2 linked regions of the Homo sapiens genome follow. The protein of the gene in region 2 interacts with the protein of the main gene of each other region in a biochemical or structural test. Each region holds a gene or a part of one and is shown on either strand. Other genes may lie near its edges. The genes, in order: GIT1 and PPFIA3.

Evidence for each region.
Region 1: the proteins of PPFIA3 (region 2) and GIT1 form a complex in vitro, tested with the Homo sapiens proteins (one study listed by BioGRID).

Annotation. Positions count from the first base shown.
Region 1 is NC_000017.11:29,583,149-29,586,955, forward strand, and holds part of GIT1 (ARF GTPase-activating protein GIT1), read right to left. Parts: intron 469-3,807; coding exon 335-468; intron 1-334. UniProt on the Homo sapiens protein: GTPase-activating protein for ADP ribosylation factor family members, including ARF1.
Region 2 is NC_000019.10:49,125,905-49,129,711, reverse strand, and holds part of PPFIA3 (liprin-alpha-3), read right to left. Parts: intron 1,854-3,807; 5' UTR 1,839-1,853; coding exon 1,599-1,838; intron 1,346-1,598; coding exon 1,244-1,345; intron 865-1,243; coding exon 700-864; intron 333-699; coding exon 258-332; intron 1-257. UniProt on the Homo sapiens protein: May regulate the disassembly of focal adhesions. May localize receptor-like tyrosine phosphatases type 2A at specific sites on the plasma membrane, possibly regulating their interaction with the extracellular environment and their association with substrates.

The sequences.
Region 1 (3,807 bases), on a different chromosome or scaffold from region 2:
GCCTACTGTGTGCCCGCACCACCACACCTCCATCTAGTCCAGCTGCCCAAAGACACAGATCCCATGAGTGTGCCAAGGCTCAGAGAGGTGAAGCAACTTGCTCAATGCTACACGACCACGTTGATAAGTGGCAGAGCAGGGGTGTGAGCTACTCTTCTGCATGAAGTGAGTAGATGGGAGGAAAGGGTCAGGATTAGCCTCTGCCCTAGGGGGGTGCTGCCCCTTGGAAGCTGCAGATTCCAGATGGGGGTGTATGTGGGTGAGGGGGAAACGCCCTCATGCTCAGCACACTCTGCCTGAGGGGAAGGAAGAACCACCCGACTGAGCCCTGTACCTGCAGCAGCGTGGGAGGCCAGGCGCTGTGGCGAAGGTGCTTGACAATGGAGATGTGGCGTCCCAGGCTCCGGTGCACGCTGCAGCACTCGTCACACACCAGCACACCCCTGCTGATGGATGCCCAGCCAGGGTCTGCCAGGGTGAGGGCAAGGGTCAGCCGGAGCCAGATGATGGGCCAGACCTCCTGAGCACCTGCTCTGGCCCGTGCCAAGCCTAGTACTCTCCACACATTCACTCACTCAGTCTCCAACAGCCTAGGAGCTGGGACCATCACTACGGCCAGGTTACCAGTGAGGGATCTCCCCAAGAGCTCACAGCTGGGGGCTGACAGAGCCATGCCCTTTCCTACATCCTTACCCCTCTGGGATATGCAGTCCCCAGGGCCCATTCAGCAGGCACAGTTTCCTGCCCTGCAGCCACTGCTACCAGTCTCTCAGCCTTTTCCCAGGAAACGAGGTCTCTGCCCCAGCCCGTCCCGAAGGGAGGAAGGGATCCCCAAGGGGATGCAACCCAGATGCTGCTGCATGCCAGATGCTGTTGAAACATGCCTGACAGATCACACCCGTCCACAGGTCCTGCCTCTGGCCTCCTGCCAGCAGGTGAGGTCCTTTCATGCTGGAGCCTCCTGCCATCATCACTGAGGGTGTAAGCTGGAGCCCTCTTAAGGAAGATGGACAGAGCAAAGGAGCTGGGCTTGACTGGGCACCCACTAGGTACCAGCTGGGTACATTATGTGTGATGCTGCTTGCAACTGTCAGGCAAGGTAGGACATGCTACCTCTGTGATGAAGAAACAGTGGCTCAGAGAGGTTAAAGGGCTTATTCAAGGATGCGAGGCTAATGAGTAGAATTGCCAGGATGTGGCACTTTCATGCCTGAGACCATGCCATGTCCACACTTGCTGCTGTCCCTCTGCCTCTATAGCCTGCTCTCCACTCTTTTGGGAAAAGTGAACTTGGGAGAAGAAGCAGGGCCAGGACTGGGTGGGAGTTCCGGGGTTCTTCTCAAGGGTGGAGGAGATGCCACCCATCCTAGGCCCCTTGGGAGACAGCTGCATACGACTCAGGCTGCGGAAAGGTCACGGGGGAGAAAGCAGCCATTGTGTGCCGCCTGAGAGTGGGGGCAGGGCGCCTCTCTCCCAGGACACTTTGCTCTGCCCAGCGGCCCCCACCCTGTCTCAGGAAACCCTGTCCTGGGGTGGGGGTGGGGGACTGGCTCTCTGCCTTGCCCTGTAGCGCTCAGGGTGTTCAGAAGTATCCCCATCAGGGGAGGGACAGGCTTAGGGGGATAAGAATCTCTCCCAACTAGAAGGCAATTCTCAGGCCTTTCCCCTCTAAGGACTTCCACCAAAGTTCCCAGGAAAATTGAGGAGACTCTGAGTCAGGGGCCCAGCCTGAGCTCTGCCCACAGCAAGTGACCCCCACTGAGGCATGAAAACAGGAAGTAAAGGAGAGAGGCCTGTCTTTGGGTTTAGGCTTTTTTTTTTTTTTTTTTTTTGAGACGGAGTCCCGCTCTGTCGCCCAGGCTGGAGTGCAGCGGGTTTAGGCTTTTTAAGGGACCCCCTCCCAATCAGGGCAACAGAGGGATGCCCAAGGTGACCGCCAACACCTTCCTGGGGGGCTGACTCCAGGGCTCAGGAGGAAGGGACCAGCCTTCTTCGCCAAGAGGGGGAGCCCTAGCATGCACTTCTGGGCTGGCTTTACCCAAATAGTGAGGCACCCCAGGTGTGGAGACCTCCCTCTCCCCACTCCAAACACCACTGGGTCAGGGGGCTGCCAGCCAGCCACCTCCAGCAGCCCAGGCAGGAAGCCGGAAATGATGCAGCCCAAATTCCTCTTGGTGGGGTTTCCTGTAAGTGGGGAGCCGCCCAGGGCAGGATCATAAATGGGCTGATCTGAGGTCTGTGGTCCTACCGGAGAAGCCAGGCATGGAAGGCTGACTATATATCCACGGCCAATGGCTCCAGAGCCCTAAGCCATGGGCAGACCAGATGTGGTGAGTGACCCTGGCTATGGCAGTAACCAAGACCAGGATGCAGGAGTGTGGTCCAAGGGTTTGCCTGGCACTTTCCCCCAGCCTGGGGGAGGGGTTCTCCTTCTCCTCCAGGTGACCTGAGAAGAATGGTAGGCAAAGGACACTGTCCTGGTCTGGGCAGCCGCTATTGGTGTCAGCTCATTTCTGGATGACACAGATGGGACGCCCACCCTAACCATTCTGTCTCCTCCCTCTGTGCAAGTGCCCTTGGGACTACCCAGATTGTAGTTTAAGGTGAAGGGATCCTTGCGTCAAGAAGCTCCTTGGACCAAACCTGGGACGGAAAGGACAGGAACTGTAAGGGAACTCGTCAGCCCTCCCCCTGCGCTTCTGGCTCCACCGGCAGGGTATGGGTCTGTATGTGTGGAGAGGTAGCAGGCGTGATCCTGGGATCACGTTAACCAGTGCCAACCCCATGGAGGCCTCTACTACGGTGAATTCCTGCCACCACCTGAAGCCATCAGTGGCCTCCAGGGCCAGTAGGTTTGCACATACAGGCTAGCCTCAGGCCTCCCTCCCCTGAGCTAAGGGCCAGATCTCCACTAGACTAAGGGAAAAGCCCACATCATGAAGGCAGGCGAGAGTAGTCCTTGGGGTAGAGTCAGAATGGTGGTTACCTCTGGGGTGCACGGACTGGGAGGGGGTACTTGGAAGCCCCCTAAGGTGATGGAAATGTTCTATAACATGCTTGTCTAACCTGCAGTCCATATGCGGCCCAGGCAGCTTTGAATGTGGCCCAACACAAATTCATAAACTTTCTTAAAACATTATGAGACTTTTTTGTGACTTTATTTTTTATTTTTATTTTTGCTTGTTTTATTTAGCTCACCAGCTATCATTAGTGTTAGCGTATTTTAGGTGTGGCCCAAGAAAATTCTTCTTCCAATGTGGCCCAGGGAAGCAAAAAGATTGGATACCCTTATTCTATAACATGATCAGAGCAGTAGTTACATGGGTATACACACATGTAAAAGCCCATCAGGATGAACACTCAGGTGCAGGCATTGACACACACAAATTCTACCTCCATAAGGGAGGAAGAGGAGCCCAACATTTGTCCCACTCTGCAATCTACACTATGAAGAGACAAATCAGCCTGTAGCTTGTCCCGTAACATGTCCCCGGCCTTGCTCACCAGAGATACCTACAGGACAGGCATCTTGAGGCCTTCACTCTCACCCCCAGGGTTGCCAAAGTGGAAAAGGCTGAGATAGAAGCCCATGGGGTGAGGAGAGGCCCTTGACTGAGATCGTGTGGCGAGGTGGGCCAAGCCTAAGGAAAGGGGAAGATGCACATTCTCCAGGGCTCCCTGCCCCCTTCCTCTCTTGGACTCCCCAGGCAGGCAGGAACACATACGGTGCCTGACGAGGTGGCACAAGCTGCCAGAGCAGCCATGTCATGTCCAGCTGCCTAGCAACACACTCACACTTGTCCTGTG
Region 2 (3,807 bases):
AGTCCCAGCCTGAGCCCCAGCCCCTGGTTCTACCCTTAATCTCACTCTCACTGGGAGATTCTCCCCGTAGCCCTGCGCAATGCGTGCCCACTTAGGAACCCCACTGGTTTCTCTCCATAGTCCAACCCCATAGCTTGTCTGCCCTAGTCCTGCCCCAATAGATTCTCTCTGGAACCCACCCAACCGGCTCCGCCCCGTGGGCAGCCCCTTAGCCCCTCCCCTTGGATTCAAATTCCCTGTCTTGGCCACACCCACACCTCCTGATTGCTCAGTTCCAGCTCCTCCTCGAGCACTGCCACGCGCTCCAGCGCCATCCGCAGCCGCTCCCGGACCTGGGGATCGGGGCAGGGCAACAGTCAGCTGGAGACAAGATCCAGTTTAGGACAGTTGCCCCTGGTCCAGAACACCCCTGGGACGGATCCGATAGGGCAGCGTTGGGGCTCCTGTCTCCATAACGGGTATGCAGCCGCAACCAGCTATCCAATCTGCCCCATCCACTGTTAGCCCCCATCCTGGTTTATTTTTCTGCTATCAACCAGTCAGGTCCCAGTCTATGTATCCTGTCCCAATCAATCACAGTCAACATTCTTCCAACTCAGAACATCCCCAACCAATCACGGCCAGAATCTCTCCCACTCAGAACAGCCCCAGTCAACTATAGGTTTCCATTCTCCACCCCTGCTCTTCTAATTCTCATACCTTCTCATCCAGGGCCTTGTGGTGCTCGAAGAGAGACTTTAGAGCTTTGAGCACTTCTACCTCCGAGGAGACCCCACCCGGGGACTGGGCCTGGCGCTTCACCACGGTCATGCGCAGTGACCTCTCGTGCCTGGACACCAGGCACTCCAGGTGTTCCAGGAGCAGCTGCAAGCACACGGCATGGGGTCAAGGAAAAGAGGCAAGGGAAAAGGGGCAGATGTGAGAAAAAGGGTGACAGGTAGGGCGGACACATGGAGGAAAAGATGGAGCCATATAAAGGAGCACCGAGACAGGTCAGGAAAAGAGAGGAGGTCGGGGTCAAGGAACCGGTGGTACAGAAAAGAGAAAAGTTATGGAGACAGGGAGGAAGGAGTGGCACCAGAGTGGGAGACCAGCCAGGAAGTGGGAGCAGGGAAGAGGAGAAGACAGAAAGGCGAGATGGGGGAAAAAAATAGGTCACGCTGCAACACTGAGAGGCCCCGCCCCCCACTTCAACACCACGAGGCCCCGCCCCCACTTAGGCCCCGCCCTCAACACCCCTCACCCGCGTGTTGTTCCGTTCCGCCTTCAGCTCTGCAATCTCTTCCTCCCTCTCCAGCAGCTGCTCCCGACATAAGTTCAGCTCCTTCGTCAGAGCTGCAAACTCCTGTCCAGACATTGGCAGGATCTGGACATTCGGCTCAATCCTTTCCCTGTCTCCTTCATTCACTGGGACTGGAAGTTTGAAGGTCCCGCCCTCCCTGCTAAGTCCCGCTGTCCCTTGCCACTCAGGCCCCGCCCATTAACGGCAAGCCTCGCCCAGACTCCTCCCTTCCAGGCGCCAAGCCCGGCCCCTTCCGGACCGCCTTCTTCCCCCCGAGGCCCCGCCCCCTCATGCCCCGCCCCTGTCCCGCCCAGACCTGGGGCAGCGCGATGCTGAGCTGGCGCTGCAGCGAGTCCTTCTCGTGGCCGAGCTCGCGCAGCCGCAGCTGCGCTGTAGCCAACCCGTCCTGTGCCTCGCGCAGCGTCTCCAGCAGGCGCTCGCGCTCCGTGAGCATCGTGACCATGAGGCGCTCCAGCTCCCCGCCCGCCTCGTCCGGGCCCAGCGCCGAGCCCCGCCGGCCATCCTCGCTGATGGTGGGCATCACCTCGCACATCATGGCGGCGGTGCGGGCCTGCGGGGCGGGGAGGGCAAGGAACAGACCGGCCTTGTCAAGGCACAACAGAGAAACTGAGGCACAGCCACTCGGATACCACGTAGGGGAAATAGTTGGGGGCAAACCAAGCACTGCACAGAAGAAACTGAGGCCCAGGCACTGTGATCATGACACAGGGAAACAGGCACCGCCACCCTGTCACTCCACCGGGGAAACCAAAGATTGGCCACCAGGTGCTGCCAGGGGAAACTGAGGCCTATTATTATTATTATTTTTTTTTAACAGGGTCTCACTCTGTCACCCAGGCTGGAGTTCAGTGGCGCGATCACGGCCCACTGCAGCCTGAACGACCCAGACTCGAGCAGTCCTCCCAACTCAGCCTCCTGAGTAGCTGCGACTACAGGCACACACCAGCATACCTGGCTAATTTTTTTCTTTTCTTTTCTTTTCTTTTCCTTTCCCTACTTTCTTTTTTTTTTTTTTTTTTTTTTTTAGCTGGAGTGATCTGTCACCCAGGCTGGAGTGCAGTGATGCGATCTCGGCTCACTGCAGCCTCCACCTCCCGGGTCCCGGTTCAAGCAATTCTCCTCCCTCAGCCTCCCGAGTAGCTGGGATTACAGGAACCCGCCACCATGCCCAGCTAATTTTTGTATTTTTAGTAGAGACAAGGTTTCACCATGTTGGCCAGGCTGGTCTCGAACTCCTGACCTCGTGATCTGCCCGCCTCGGCCTCCCAAAGTGCTGGGATTACAGACGTGAGCCACCGCGCCTGACCTTTTTTTTTTTTTTTTTTTTTGTGGAGATGAGGTCTCACTCCTGGACTCAAGGGATCCTCCTGCCTCAGCATCCCAAAGTATGCCACTGTGCCTGTGCCATTGCTCTTAGGAAAACAGTCCTGGCTACCTGGGTGAGAGGATTTGGGAAAACTGAGGTCAGACTCCAACAGACAGTGGCAGCAAACCTAAGCCTAGCCCACTCAAAGGAACCAAAGCTGGCCGACCCTGGTATCGTATGAGTGAATGTGGAGAAAATCAGTGTCTACCTATTCTGGCTCTACTGAGAATCCCCCTCAACCCACTGCATGGGTAGGAAAACTGAGGCCCAGACCAGAACCATGCCTTAAGAAGGCCACAGGGCCAAGGGACCCAGGATTAGGTCACTAGGATGTGGTTACCTGTATAATGTCACAGGGTTGGTCTCACCTACTAGCCAGCCCAACTCCTGCCTCCTTCAATTTCCCAGAAATCTGGACCCCGGCTCCCTAAGAATCTAAAGACCTACTCCATTCGGGAAAAGAAAAAAAAAAAAAAAAAAAAGCAAGGCCAGGACTGGGCGCAGTGGCTCATGCCTGTAATCCCAGCACTTTGGGAGGCCGAGATGGGCAGATCACTTGAGGTCAGGAGTTCAAGACCAGGCTGTGCAACATGGTGACCCCCGTCTCTACTAAAAATACAAAAAAAATTAGCCGGGCATGGTGGCATGCACCTGTAGTCCCAGCCACTGGGGAGGCTGAGGCACAAGAATCGCTTGAACCCGGGAGGTGGAGGTTAGAGTGAGCCGAGATAGCACCACTGAACTCCAGCCTGGGCAACAGTGTGAGATTCCATTTCAAAAAAAAAACACAGTAACGGCCGGGCAAGGTGGCCCACTCATGTAATCCCAGCACTTTGGGAGGCTGAGGCTGTTGGATCACGAGGTCAAGAGATTGAGCCCAGCCTGGCCAACATGGTGAAACCCCATCTCTACTAAAAATACAAAAATTAGCTTGCGTGGTGGCACGCACCTGTAGTCCCAGCTACTCGGGAGGCTGAGGCAGGAGAATCGCTTGAACCCGGGAGGCAGAGGTTGCGGTGAGCCAAGATCGTGCCACTGCACTCCAGCTTGGCGATATAGAGAGACCCAGTCTCAAAAAAAAACAAAACAAACAAACAAACAAAAAAAAACAAAAAAAATACCAGTATGGCCAGGACCA